Regions from separate parts of the Homo sapiens genome. Here region 2 is linked to region 1. Evidence: fine-mapped expression QTL. Tissue or cell type: tibial nerve. Region 1 holds a variant in brackets; the other region holds the start of a gene. All regions are shown on one strand. Distances are between the middles of the regions.

Region 1 (7,699 bases):
CACACAAGCTTGCAAGGGCCCAAAATAATGCTTCAGCTGTCATTGCCTAAGATGACATTGCAAGACCATCCCAAGACCTTATTGTTGGAGATGACTTTGCCCCCTGTGCTGGAGACTTCACCTCTTACACTAAAGTCTCCACTCAGCAACACCCATGGGCTGCCTGTCCTAAGGCACAAAATTGACACGTTTAAAATGTTCTTTCTGAACTCACTGTCTGCTTAGCCCGTGATCCTGGTATAGTCCTTGTTCTCTTCTAAAATACACCGCTACACTTCCATGCCTAAAGGAAAACCTGATAGAGGTTACTAAATTAATGATGATTATTGCTTTCCCCAGGAGGCACCTATCTCATATTAAACAACCCCTTGGCCCCCTGGGGAGAAGACTGACTACTCTGTGGTGCCTTCTCCTACTGTAACCCCATCCAGCTTTCTACCACAGCCTCTTGACTTGCATCTCCAACCACAACCACTCCTTCCCCTTGGCTAGACACAATACCACTAATATTTACATATACTTTGCTCAATTATTAGTTCATAACCAACAACATAACTGCCATACTGAATGCTTACTTTCTTGGGAATGATATTATTCTCCTTGCAGTCAATATCTTCACCACTCAAGCTACAACTGTCTTACATTTAAAATATCATGCCAGGGCACCCAGAGGTGGATTGTCATCAATTTGTTTAATAAAGTGCTGCCTCAGCACCCATTTTTAGGACTGCCATAAGTTATTTGAAGCCCAGTCATATACTGTCACCTTTGGCCCAGTTAAAACTTTCCCTCCCTGTGTGGTTGTTTGCAATACAGCCCGTTTTTTCCTCATCTCATTGAACCAAACCCAACATATTCCACAGGTGCTGCCGTGATAAAACTTAATGGTTAACACCAGAGTCTTGTAAACAAGTTCCCCAATTCACAAGTGTTTTCTTTAAAGTAAAAAATTCACAACCCCTGAGGAAAGTGTAAGGGCTAACACCCGTGCACCTTAATAAAGACCTGGCCCCACAGCTCTTCTCTCTGTCTCTTGCTCCCCACCCGTTGGTTGAGCTCCCTGCCACCTCTAGCCTTCCCGTCAGCCTCCTGTTGACACCCCTAACCTCTATGTGATCTGTAAGTAATAACCTTCTTGTGTTTCATGCATTTGGTTTTACTTCCTCATTTTGTCTCACCTGCCTGATACACCCGAATCTAACTTTCTCCTAGTCAGGGCTCTCCTAGAAAGTGGTTATCTTGGTTTATGGTCACTCTTGAGAGAAAGACCTCAAAATCAAATTAAAAGTAAACCGTAACAATAGAAATCATAACAGTGACTTTTGCTATTAAGAAGGCAAATTTGCTATTAATAAGATGTACTATAATAGGAAAAAGCTATAACCCATAGACACATCTAACCATAGACACACTCAAAGCGTATCAATCAGCCCTCTGGATGGAAGCGTCTCAGAAATTAATCGAGAGTAGTTTTTGGCTAACTGCCTATGCTGATTCTCTGACGTTACAGAGCAGTGCATTCTAAGGGGACAAAATGACTTTATCAATCAAGGAAGAGCATGAATAAAGCCATTTTCAGACAAGCAATGACAGAAAATTTAGCCTTTCCTCAAAAGTCATTTAAAGATGTATTCAAAATGCAGGAGGGAAGGAAGAAAGCACAGTTTAAGAAAACTGTATAGCTCCAACCCAAAACGGCCAGGAGCGGGGATTCCTAGGACGATGGTTATGCAGTGAGCCTAGAAAGCAGCAGGTACAGACAGGAGCCAGAGGCTGCTTCAGAAGGGAGTTTTCAGGGACAGGGCTACTACAAACAATTGAAAAAATGCGTGAAAAGTGAATCCACATGATCATGAAGTTGCAACATTCTCCCTGGTGTATGGATCAGTTGGGGATAGTAACCCTGGACCCCTGAATAAACCCTGCACTTATCTCCAAACTACTAGTTGGTATTATATTAACAATTAATTGTTTGGTTATTCCACTTTCAATTCATACATGATACGGAGTGGGTGTAGGATAGAGAGGGATGGGGAGACTACAGCTTCTCAATTTTAGCTCTTTGTATTATTTAATTTGATACCATTACATATTTTGATTTTTAGAAATTTAGGTTGATAGAAATCACTAGGTATAACAAAATTTTAATATCGTCTGTTTACAAAATCTTCACTCCGAAACTCTCACTGTATTTTTCCATTAGTTGTATTCGTGCTGCCTCAGTTTTCTGGGAAAAGCCATTTTACCTTCCAAAAGGAATTGTCTTTCGCTTTTGGACAGAAAATAAGGCACTAATTACCTAATCCCTTCCCAGGAACTAACTTCATATAAAGACTAAAATGCCAGTACGGTTTTGATCCTTGAACAATACAGGTGTTAAGGGAAATAATCCAACACACAGTCAAAAATCCATGTGAAACTTTTGAACTCAGTAATTCCAGTGATAGTCTCTGTAGTAGTAAGTCCCCAGCAGGTCAGAACTGGGATCTGGAAAGTATTTCTGGAGACCTAGGCTAGCTTCTACTCTTTTGCCTGCCCTATACTTTCCTAAGCACTGATTCCTGCTATTAAATCTCTTCCTGATTAGTAATTGAAAGAAGCCATCATTTTTCTGCAAAGAACCTTAACTCCAAAGTTGTATTTGGTTCATTCTCTTTCATTACACCCCAAGCTAAGCAGTAAATAAGTCCTGCCAGTTCTTCTGCCATAATTTTTGTGCCCAGCCACTCCTTTTCCTTTCCATATTTTTATAATGTAAAGGGAAGAGCAACCTTGGATCCTAGAATCAACTGGCGGCCTTGCTATTCCTAAGCTATGTTTCTTTGGAGAAATCACTTAATTTCTTGGAATATTCCACAGTTGTAAAAGGAGATTGTTGCCAGTTTATAAGATATTGTGAAAATTAGAGATACTATTTGATGCTCTGCAAAAATCATCTGGCCTAATTTTTGGTATTTAGCCTTAGCCATGCTATTATTATTAAACTCCTACCTGCTCTTCTTGTTCTTGGATCTTTCTCAGTCTAGCTCTGGAAAGAGAGTATGTCCCGAGTATGTTTTGAATAACCATGGAAATACAAAAGTAGCCCTTGACCTCAAGGAGGTTTCATT[T/G]TAAATAACAAAACTGAAGTTTTCTGAAAAGCATGACTCAGATTTGAAAACAGAAAAAGTGACCTGAGATTGGTTTTGGGGGTTTTAGACTAAGAACCTTTTTGGTGAAATCAATGGAGGAATTTTTAGTGTTGATGATCTCTCTGACCAACCAGTGATTGAATTATTTTCCCTCAGTGTCTGAGATAAAAAGATTAACTTCAAAACTCAAATTATATTTGCTTTTGGAAAGATGGAGTAAGTATATTTTTCCCTATTCCTCCTGATAAGTGCAACTGAAATCTCTGGAAACAGTGTAAGACAAACAAGAAAATGCTGAAAGGTAGAGAAAATAAGCTGGCCATTAGGGAATATGGGAATAAAGAACAACATGGTGATGAGTTATCTGGGTATTTTTCTTTGGCCTCAAATATTTCAGACTGGAATGAGATTACCATTTGAGTTGGGAGCCTGAGTAAAGCAGATTGTTTTCCCTAATGTGGGTGGGCCTCATCCAATTACTTGATAGTCTGACTAGAACAAAAGGGCTGACCTCTGAGTAAGAGAGGATGTTTTCCTGATTGATGGCCTTTGAAATGGAACATTGTGTTTTGTTGTGCTGTTTTCCTGGCTTTGAACTCAGCTGAAACATTGATTCTTCCTGAGTCTCAAGCTGGCTTTTGGCCTGGACTACATTAGTGGTTATCCTGAGTTCTCAGGTTTTGGGGGGACTAGATTATTGGGAATGAAGAAGGAAGAGAGTAAGGAAAAATATGGGTAAACACTAGGCTTTCCTTCTCCTCCTAAGTTTTCTAAATTATGTTTGGTTGTGGAAGAAAAAAGTATTGGCCAGGTGTGGTGGCTCACGCCTGTAATCCGTTTATTTTACTAATAACTTCCCTACCTACCCCCACATCTACTCCTTGACACTCAAAACAACCTTCCCCTCCCCACCATGGATAACTGATACTTGACTTTTGTGGTAATAATTTTCTTGCTTTTCTCTACACTTTTCCCACCTAAATATGAGCTGCTATACACTATAGCTAGGCTTTCCAGATTTTCAGTGAGATTATTCTTAATCTCAATTATGTAAAGAATAATTTCATTTATGTAAAGATTAAACACCTGGAAAGCTAAGCTACAGTGTTTAGCAGTTCATACTTAGATGGGAAAAGTATAGAGAAAAACAAAATTATTACAATTTTATTACAATGTTGCTTACATGGATAAGTTCTCTATTTGTAATTTCTGAGCTCATAGTGCACCCGTCACCCAAGCGGTGAACATTTTACGTGATATTTAGTCTTTTATCCCTCACCCTCTCCCAACCTTCCCCCGCAAGTCCCCAAAGTCCATTGCATTCTTATGCCTTTGCATTCTCATAACTTACCTCCCACTTATATGTGACAACATAAGACATTTGGTTTCCCATTCCTGAGTTACTTCACTTAGAATAATTGTTGTTCATTTTTATTGCTTGACAGTATTTCATTGCATGTCTATTCCTCAATTTATTTCGTTTTATAATTAACATAATTCTATATGTTTATAGCATAAAATATGATATTTTGATATATGTATACATTGCGGAATGTCTAAACACCTTACTAATACTTTTTTAATCTTGCTAGTTATTACGGTAAAGGGATCCCCCAAGGGACACCATCATGACATAGCAATTGTAAATCCTAGGTTATATCCTGGAGTTTTTAAATGGTGCATCTACTCTCCACTCTTAGAAAGGTAGGTGATTTCCCAATTACTCTTTTCCAGGGGTCTTCTCCCCTCTCATTATCTTCATTTTCCACTTCCATCCACCTTCCAAAGACCACCAAATTCAATGTGGCATTCCCATTTGGCATTCTTGTTGTCCGAAAGAGGAAACCCTAGGTTATGCGTGGAGAAAATGAGTGTAGCCTGGAGACAGTGGCAGATTATTTCTCTCTCATGGCCCTCTTAGATTTTAACATGCCTCCCCCATGACTCCCTGCCAAGACCCTTTTATTTGCAAAGGTACCTCTATGGTCTCAGCCTCCAGACTTTGGATCACTTCATCAACTTAGAAACACTGGGGATTCTGTAGAAGTAGAGCTATAAAAGCCCTTTGAAGTCTAGAAAGAGTTTTCCATAATTCAGGCAGAGTATTCTTACTGGTTCCTACAGTAACGTTTCAAATGATGAAGAATGTTTCCACTGACCTTTCCTAGGCAACATGCATGCTAATAGTTCCAGTAGGAAATGTCTTTGCATGGCTTGGTACACTTAACAGGTGATTTACCAATGGTAAGAACAGAAGCAACAGACTTAATCTGGAAAATAATTTTAGTTGCAAAATGAGTAATAGTTCTTTTTCACAAATTAACTTTTATTGGCACTGAACTGGTACCAATACTGTATTTCATGGGAAATAAAGAACTCTGAGTAAATTTTTGAGCTCCTTATCTGTGAGCCACTGACCCACATTTCCTCCTTGAGTACACATACCCAAACCTGACCACTTATCTATACGTTTCCTTTCAAAAGAGTGCTGTGGGCCACTGCGCTTTCTAATAATAAAACTATTACACACTTCTTGTAATAATTTAGCTATATGAAAGTATGTGATATAAAATTAACTCTTGATTTTAATTAATCTTTCTATGCTTACAGGAAATATGTATATACACATATAAGGGTCCTTATATTTCTATTTTAATTTAAAAATCCAGACTATACATATTGTCCTAAATTTTTTCATATAACATATAGTAGACATTTTTCCAAATCAATCCTTTTTTGACCACATATCATAAATCACATATGCCACATATCATCTGAGTTTCTTATAGTGGAGAGGAACCCTCACATTGCCAGAAGCAGATAGAGCAGGTCTCCAGATAGCATGTGAGGACTACCATGTGCCTGTCAGAAATCCACACATTCGGCCAGGCGCGGTGGCTCACACTTGTAATCCCAGCACTCTGGGAGGCCGAGGCGGGCAGATCACGAAGTCAGGAGATCGAGACCACGGTGAAACCCCATCTCTACTAAAAATACAAAAAAAATTAGCCTGGTGTGGTGGCGGGTGCCTGTAGTCCCAGCTACTCGGAGAGGCTGAGGCAGGAGAATGGCGTGAACCCGGCAGGCGGAGCTTGCACTGAGCCGCGATTGCGCCACCGCTCTCCAGCCTGGGCGACAGAGAGAGACTCCGTCTCAATAAAAAATAAAAAGAAATAAAAAGAAATCCACACATTCATGATTAACATTTTCACATATACCTAGTCGTCTGTTTTTGGTGATAATGAAATAAAACCCCCCTCAACTAGAGCTCTTAATTGCTTGAGAGTAGAGTTGAGGATAAGGAGAAAATACTGGGGCTCTAAAAAGGGGAACCAACTTACAACTCTTAAATTATAATCAAACTAGTGGCCCCAATGTATTGAGTATTTACTATGACATAAGCATTGTGGTCAACAATTCACATACATTCTCACAACAACTCTATGAAATGGCTGCTATTTTCCCATTTACAGGCAGGGGGCTGGGACATTGAGAGGTAACTTGCTCGAGGTTATCTGGCTGGTAACTGATTACATTTTCAATTTTTTTTTTCTGATAAAAAAATATAATAGTACAAAACAATTTACAATAGAAGATAAATACCAATTCTGCCCACCCAAACGTCAGTTCTGTTATATGTCAGGGATAACTTCTTTTAACTATTTCTGGTTTTATATTTTCTGACGGTTACATAGCAATAAGTTATGATTTAACTCTGTATTTTGAATTAACACCTTTGGGCATTGTCTACTGACTCCTAACTATGAAAGATGGGAATTTAAGTCCTTATGTTACCCCCCAAACTGCCCAACTCTACTCTACATTTTTGACATTTATATTATCTTCATCTTACTGTATACTTTTATGATATGGAACATACATAATCAATGCTTATGACTTTTATTAAAATGTTTCAAAAAACATTCAAGTAGAAAGAAAAAAGATAATAGCCAGTAGAGTTTCTACTCCGAGATGCTTAACTATGAACATCAATTCTCATTGATATAGAACCTCAGATATTTAAATTATGGTTAAGAAAAATGTACTGTATACTTCCAAATAGCTAGAAGAGAATAATTGTAATGCTCCCAACATAAAAAGATGTTTGAGCTGAGGTGATGGATACCTCAATTACCCTGATTTGATCATTACATATTGCATGCAAGTATCAAAATACCACCTTTACCCCTAAAATTTTAGTGTACAACTATTATAGATGAGTAAAAAACTTTTTTTAAGAAAAGTTTTCATCTACCAGCAATGACTAAAACTCTAAAAGAAAGTAGAATTTAAAACTTGAAAGTAAAAAAAAAATCAGATATAGAAGTGTTTAGATAAATTGGATATCACATGTGAAATTCTAGAGTAGATGCTGAGTCTTTTTGAGATTTTTGCTTCCCCATTCCACTTCTCCTCAATTGATCAATGTAAACAGTTTCATGCATGTGTTTTCACACCTTAGATGGTGGTTTTAACATCAATGATGTATATAAATGTAGACCTATGCTTTGGTGGTGGGGAGGAGACTGTCATTGCTTTTTTTTTTTTCCATGTGATAATCAATCATA
Region 2 (7,699 bases), 460 kb before region 1:
ATTCATATATTTTATCTGTTATGTAAGGGTCTAAAATATTTTATATAAAATATTGTTATTTGAGCTAGGTTTGATTTTTTAGGAAGTCAATTTCACATTTGTGTGAGAGTGAAATATCCAAGCATAATTCCTTGTGTTATTAATAAGTTGTACTTCTCAGCAAGTAGACCTTAATTAAACCAGATTCCTTTCCTTGATGATTATAATCTTCTAAAAGGTCACTGTTTTTATTTTATTGGATATTAAAAGATACTCCTTTCAGAAAAGTTTATTAGTTTTCACATGAACAGAGTACATTTTTTATTACATAGAATTTTTATATATAATTCTCTTCAAAGTCAAATCCTTAGAAAGTAAATATGAATACTATTTATTTTTCAAAGATGAACTCTTTGGAAAGGTTACTATTTTAATGCTAGTGAGAGAATTTCTCTTGGTTTTTATTTTAATAGTTGAGAATAGAGCTGCTACGTTAATGTGGCCTGCTCTGCCACCCAATGAACCAAATCCATGACAGGGTACAATAGGTGAGTGGACAATACGATGAAGATAGACCCTTTCCACTTCTTGTCAACTCCGGTTCCATTAACTGAGAAACAAATTTAATGACCTTCACATACCACAATTTTGCCATCTTTGCTGCCCTAAGAAATGTTTTACTGATCGAGTTTTCCCATTCAATTAGGGGATTAAAAAACTGCATCTCTACCGTCTTCATTTTTAGTATGGATTCTCTACTCATGTTCACTCACTCATTCCATTTAATTGGCTGCTGGATGACCCTAATAAATGACATCATTATTGGACCAAGCATACTAAAATGAGTTAGGAGATGCCTATAAATGCTTGTGGGGGTTTCGTGTTTGTTTGTTTGTTTGTTTACAGTGAAAGTAAGCTTAGGGGGTGGGTGGCTGGGAAGAAATATGTATGGTAGATTTCTAATCCTAGGATTGAAATTCTTCTCTAAAACTAACAATTGAAGGGACTTAAAAGACATTTTTTTCTTTTTTAATATAATGCATCTCTTTGCTAAGTACAATATGTCTAAACAACCATATTCTGGATGTAATATGAATCTCCCCCATTCTTATATTGTCTTCATTAAACATATTAAGCCCTAGAGTCATGACAGAAAATAAGGTAAGATAAATAAAGTGAAATTCAATATAATTTTACATTTAAATTTGATAAATGTCAAAATAATTTTGAACTTACTTTTGTGAGAGATCTGGCCATGTCCTAGAAGAAAGATAAAATTAGCAAACACATATAGATTTGTTTTTAAAGATGCTACATTATATCTTTTATAAAATAATTTGATTCTCAAAATATGTAACATTTTCTATCTATATATTATCCTGAGGAATAAAGCAGAACCATAAATGCTAAACAAATTATTAATCATAAAAACTAAATATTTAAACAAACAAATGGAATTTTTATTAAGTGCCTTCTATGGGATTCAAACCTAGGACTATGAGACTTCTGAGGCCTCTTATTAACTATAAGACTGTAACACATCCCACCTTCAAGGCTGGCCACCCACTGAGAGAGAGAGAGAAAGAGAGAGAGAGAGACTGAGAGAGAGTGACAGAGAGAGAGAGACAGAGAGAGTGACAGAGAGAGAGAGAAACCGAGAGAGAGTGCGCAAATCCATCTCTTTATTAAACAGGCATGACCCAGATCTTGTATTTCAGCCCATAAAAGATTTTATTTCACTTTCCTACATGTGCTTTCACAATAGTAAAATAAAGATTTATAGGAATGTTTACCATAAAGAGCCTTTAACAGGGCCACTTGTTTTTCAATTGAGGAATCTGACAAGAGACGAATTGTCATTAACTACATGTTCCACTGACCGTGCGATGAATTCAAGGAAACGATATTTCTATCCCAAGACAAATGTACTCTCACCTCAGGGAATGCTATAAAATCCTCTTCCACATGCACTTGGATCATCCGCAGTACTACCCCTGGAGGCCCGTGCCTTCCCTTTGTCAGTTTGGATCTTTAGTCAAGGGAGCGCTTCACTCGAATACAGTGAGGCATGCGAACCAGATCTTTCCCTCCCCCCGCGGGCCCGTGCGTGCCTTAGTGCGGTGTGGGCCAATGTCGCGCCTGGGGAATTACACCCCTCTTGGAGTGGAAATCTCTATTCAGAGCGAGAGACCCTGGGGTACTCCAGGAAGGAGTGAGCAGACAGGGCGGGCTGCCCAAGACACCTAGGGACGGTCGCCTATCTCACCAGCATCCCGTTTGCCCATTAATCCAAAGAACTGCTGAGGCTTGGGTCTCCGGGCGATTCTCTGCAGAAGATGCTCAAAGGGCTCCGGCAGTTCCTCCTGGGAGACAAAAGCACGGACAAAGGGCGTGTAAGGCAACCAGAGCGAGGCACCCAGCAACCCGAGCCCTTCCCCCCGCTGTACTCCGGCCCCGAGGCGTGGGGAGGCGGCCTTCCCCACGCTCGGGCTGAGCGGGGTCCCTCCCGAGGCGCTGCCTCTCTGCGCCCCTCCCCGCCGAACTCGCGTCCCGCCCCCCGCAAGCCTGCCAGGGCGAGTTAGCAGCTGGCTCGGCGTCTTCAAGCTTCGAGCGCTTTCCGCTCTTTCCTCCCAGCCCGGGGACCTTCCCTCATCTGCTGCGCCGCCACCTGACTTTGTCTTGTCTCGGTGCCGGCTTTGTAGAGTCCTCACCGCCCTAAATGCACACAGGTGTGTGGGATCTGGGGCTGGGGCTCCGGTGGGGAAGGGTGACAACGCTTTACAGACGACTTTCACCGTTTTTCCGAGGCGCGCTCCCCAGCGCCTGTAGCCTACGAGTTTCTAAAGGGAGACTTCAAGCTACATCCTCAGGTCCGCAAAACAAACGTGAAGGCAGGAAATTAACTTCCCTCCAGCCTCCGGCCCTCCAATCCCCCTGCAGCTCGCGCGTGTGCCCGCTGCTGCCCGCGACCCAGGCGCCCTCCTCTGCCCGTGCCCAGACGCTAGGGCAGTGCAGCTGGACCGGAGCCCCCGAAATCCCAGGTCCTGGGGGATGAAATCTTACGAGATTTCCCGCCTTGTGAGGATCTCGGGCTCATCCGGGAGGGCATCCCTACTGCAGGGAGTTCCTGGGCCGGACGGTGCAGCCCTCGGGAAGAAACTTGAATCGTGGGCACAAAATCCCGTGGGGAACCCGGGAAATAGTGCCCCTTTCCATCCTCTCGCACGCAACCGCTGCCTCTTTCCGTGGTGGCGGTGCGTGCCACGTTAACTAGGGTGCTGTTGCGTGGGAAGGTGACAGCTCCCGAGCCCAGGAAGAAGGGTGCGGGCCGTCCTGGGAAGGGGCCTCACCTTGATCTGGTCGCTGTCGTACCAGTCGGACCAGTAATTCAGATCATCATTGGCTCCTATTTCTTCTGCAAACAGCTGAGTGGAGACAAGAAAAAAGACTGCCAAGGCCACGAGGATTTTCATGTTGGATTTCTGGGAAGGGGTAGGAGGAGAAGACACCAAAGAGAGAAATAATGTATCTATTAGGGGTGGTTATCCAAGAGTTAAAGCAACAGAATTTTCTGCCCCACAACGGATGAACCAAGATCAAAAACATAAGGACTGAAGTCTCACCTGTACCGGTTAGGCGAGAGAATCGCGTCCCAAAGATTCTCCAACCCTCTTCTCCCTGAATCCCAACTCCCCCAGCCCCCTAACCCACCAACCCACACCTTCAAACCAGGAAACTCTGCAGGTGGAAGACAAAGAGGGGCGTTGGCGTTTGGGAAGCCAGTCTCCCCACTGTCCCTCGCCGCAGCGGCGCCCCCAGCGCGGCCACCTCGGACAGATGCGGGGCGGGGTGACCCGGGCAGCCGCGGCCAGCACCGCGCGGGCACTTACTGCGACGGACAGTCCCGCGGGGTGCTGAGTTTCTCTGGTTCCTCCGAGCGCACGCTGGTCGCTCCGCACTCTCGGTAGCTGCCGCCGGGAAGGAGGTCCGAGCGCGCTCTTTCGCCTGCTCAGTGCCTTGCGGTATTTATCCCAGCCTCCTTGAGCCTCCAGACCCACGTGACATTCTCCCCACGCGACTTTCTGCTCAATATTTAATTAGCCGCCTCCTCTCCTTTCGCTTGCGTGATTGAGAGTTTCCGAGACGGTAACTCGTCGATGCCCATAACATCTGGACCCAATTGGGTTCTAAATGACGCAATTTTAGGAAAATCGAGGTCTCGCCATCCAATCCGGAGCGGCCTGCTTCCGTCTGCAGATCTGACGCCCCCTCCCCTCTCCTTCGAAACTGGGTTTCATGACACCTGATATTACTCATCAAATTTGAGCAAAGTGACTCATTCCTTGGACTTCGGTAACTTTTCCGTCCCTCGAGACGTCAGGATAAGTTGCACTTTTCAGGATGGCCAAATAACTGTAGGCATTCAGACATTTCGTCGGAAATCAGGCTAAAAAAAGAGGACTACACTTGAGGGGAGATGCGGGGAAGCATTATTTTCCCTTCTATTTCTAGCTTAATAGTATTTAAGTGTTTCTGAGACACAGCATCGTTCTATAACCAGAACATCCCTCTTCTAAATCAACGCGAATACTGGCTTTTCCTTAGCATAACAAAAGGATGTTTAGTCCCATAGTATTTTAGAAGATGGAAGCAGATTTATTTTACATTTTGGAGAAAGGGGAATTTAAACATGACATTGTGTGTCAGACTTAGGATTTCTTTTGTTTCAAGCCGGGTAACTCCTCTTCCTTGCCACATCCAGGAGCAGGGGTTGAACAGGACGTTTTTTGCTTCTCTCCTACACTTTCTTGCTGAAGACTAGGAAACCAGCAACATAGTGTGTAGGATCCTCACCCTTGTCACTAAAGGGCTCTATAAATCATGTTTCTCCTTTCTATGAAAGTAAGTGTAGTGAAGATGCTAATGGGACAGTCATTAACAGCACAAAATATTAGACAAATAGCATTTGTACAGAAACCACACCTTTCCATGAGCCCTTGGTTGCCTGGCAGACACATTTCTTTGATCTCCAAATGAATTAAAAGATGTGACATCTTTGGTGGAGTAGTTTTCTCCCCTTTACATATGAAGTATTATATTTTTCAATTAATTATGATTTTTTAGTATATTGCATAAAAGAAATAAATTTTTGCAACTCAAACCAGAAGTATTTTTTTCTCTATGTTGTTCTTAAATAATCCTGAATTTGGAAATTCTCATGCATCTCTGATTTCTTTTGGCCTTAGCCTCACAATGTGAGCATTTTATTTTCCGTTTTCAGAACTTTTATATGGAAAATTATAAGCATATCCAAAAGTAGAGAGAAACATCCACTTCCAAGTTTCATCTACAACCCTTCCAGTTTCCTCTGCACTGAGATTATTTTGAAAAAAATCCCAGACAGTTAATCATTTCAACTGTAAATATTTCAGCATGTCTGTATAAAGGTAGGAATTAAAAAAAATAAAAACATATCCACGCCATTATCCCACCTAAAACAACATAAAATAATTCCTTACATTAAATATCCAGTTAGCATTCAAATATTTCTCATTGCTTCCTAATTCCGGCCCACACAGTTTACTACTTGAAATCAGAATTATAATGAAGTCCATACATTACAATTGGTTTTGTTAGTTCAGGCTGCTGTAAGAAAGTACCATGGTCTGGGTGACGTAAACAACAGAAATTTATTTCTCACAGTTTCGAAGGTTGGAAGTCTGAGATCGTGGTGTCAGCATGGTCTGGTTGTGTTTAAGGCCCTCTTCCAGGTTACAGACTGTCATATTGTCTCCTTGTTATATCCTCACATGGCAGGAAAGAATGAGAGAGCTCTTCAAAGTCCCTTTTATCGGGGCACTGATCTCATTCATAAGAGCTGCACCATCATGATCTAATTATCTTCCAAAGACCCCACTTCCTAATACCATAACCTTAGGGGTTACGATTTCAACACATGCATTTTGGAGGGACACGAACATTCCTTCTACTGCATGTTTCTTAAATCTCCCTGAATCTGTAATTCGCTCTCTCTTTCTCTCTCTATTGTAGTTTATTGATAAGACAGGTCAGGAGAGTGTACCGCATTCTGGACTTTGCTGATTGCCTTTTAACTTGTTTCTCTGTTTCGATTATTTCCTGTTAATTGGTAGTTGTATCTAGAAGTTTGATCCTCTGTACATTTTTTTCTTTTTCCTTTTCTTTTTCTTTTTTTTTTTTTTTGATGAGACTACTTCACATGTGTTGTGTTGTTCTGGTAGGAAGCACATGATATGTGGTTGTTTCTCCTTTTGAGTTGTTAGCAGCCATTGACTATCATTTTCTAGATCTATTAATTCATTAGTATTTTCAAAACAGTGCTATGTTGATTTTATCATTCATTATTTGTCTGGTAGGCAGACTTGTTTCTTTCATGTTTCTCAGCAACTAGTTATTCTAAAGCATTATTAATATAGGAAAGATGGGATAAATGCTTGATTATGTCTCTCTACCAATTTTGAAAATAATGAATTGGTAAATTAACACCTTTTAATAAGACCCACTTTAAAAAATTAGGATTATTATGACTTCCTGGATTTAAACACATTTGACATACAGTCATCACTCAGTATGCATAGGGGATTGGCTGTAGGACCTCCTGTAGGTATCAAAACCTGTGGATGCTCAAGTCCCTGATGCAAAATGGTGTGGTATTTGAATATAACCTATGCACATCGTCTCATATATTTTAAATAATCTCTAGATTACTTATGATACTTAATATAATATAAAGGCAGTGTAAATAGTTGTTATACTGTATTATGTGGGGAATAACACAAAGGGAAAAAGTCTGTATGTGTTTAGCACGGATGCATTTTTTTCTAAATATTTATGACCTATGTTTGGTTAAATCTATAGATGCAGAACCCATGGATACAGGGGGCCAACTATATTTCAATCCATGGCAGGCATTCTTCTAATTGAAGTTCAGACCTATTCTTGGCCTGCAGGTGACTCTTCAAAGTGACTCCTGAGACTTTATGCCAATAGGCTTTGATGGCTTTTTCTTGTTTTTGGTATGACAAAATGTTTCGGGTCAAAGTTATATACGTTTTGCTTCTGACCCGAAATCTGCCTTTAAGGGGCCCTAATTTTAGAATTGAAAATGACCATTAGAGATCATAAACTGGGCTTTATTTTTACACGTTGTTAGTGAGTTCTTCATTGCTTCAAGACCTTTTCAGCAGACAGAGCTGAGAACAATGTGTGTGTGTGTGTCTCTCTGTGTGTGTGTGTGTGTGTGTATCTATAATCATGAATGTATACCGACTTTCTTTTCAAATCAGGATCTCATAGAGTTTTTAATTAACCTTTTGCATCTCTTTTTCCATACTCCAAATGACATCAACATGATTATTCATTAGCTTTATCCCAATACATGGTGCCAATATGATCAACAATATCATTACTGGAAACAGATTAAGAGTTTTTGTTTGCAGTTTTGTTCTTTTTTAATCTTTAGAGCATATCACACCAGGTATGTTCGGTCATATTACTGTGTTATAAAGTCTCTTTACAAGTTCTTTGTATGGTTATGCTACCAACTCTTACACAGGTAGATTCATTTTCTCATTCTGCTCAAGTTATAGGGATCATTTTTTAAAAGTAAGTTTAGAATTATGTAAAATACATGGTTCTAAACTCAAATATTAAAAACATTATGTGGCCGGGCGTGATGGCT

Which allele goes with the higher level. Alleles are on the strand shown, and positions count from the first base shown. SD is a standard deviation of normalised expression in the study named.
For the expression in tibial nerve of the gene that starts at base 3,979 in region 2, allele G in region 1 goes with a higher level than allele T (moderate effect, 0.60 SD a copy in GTEx).

What was found. PIP is the estimated chance that this variant, and not a neighbour inherited with it, causes the effect.
Region 2: it holds the start of TAC1, and the variant in region 1 is fine-mapped to the expression of TAC1 in tibial nerve (GTEx, PIP 0.99).

What each region holds. Positions count from the first base shown.
Region 1 is chr7:97,265,877-97,273,575 of GRCh38, reverse strand. LOC124901704 (a long non-coding RNA gene) reads left to right here and starts at 989. Exons shown (of 3, transcript XR_007060445.1): 1 at 989-1,119. RefSeq lists an enhancer at 3,407-3,927. The variant T/G (reference allele first, on the strand shown) is at 3,111.
Region 2 is chr7:97,728,366-97,736,064 of GRCh38, reverse strand. TAC1 (tachykinin precursor 1) reads right to left here and starts at 3,979. Exons shown (of 7, transcript NM_003182.3): 1 at 3,870-3,979; 2 at 3,330-3,461; 3 at 2,246-2,342; 4 at 1,773-1,817; 5 at 1,216-1,239. The coding sequence starts at 3,452. RefSeq lists an enhancer at 3,621-4,820.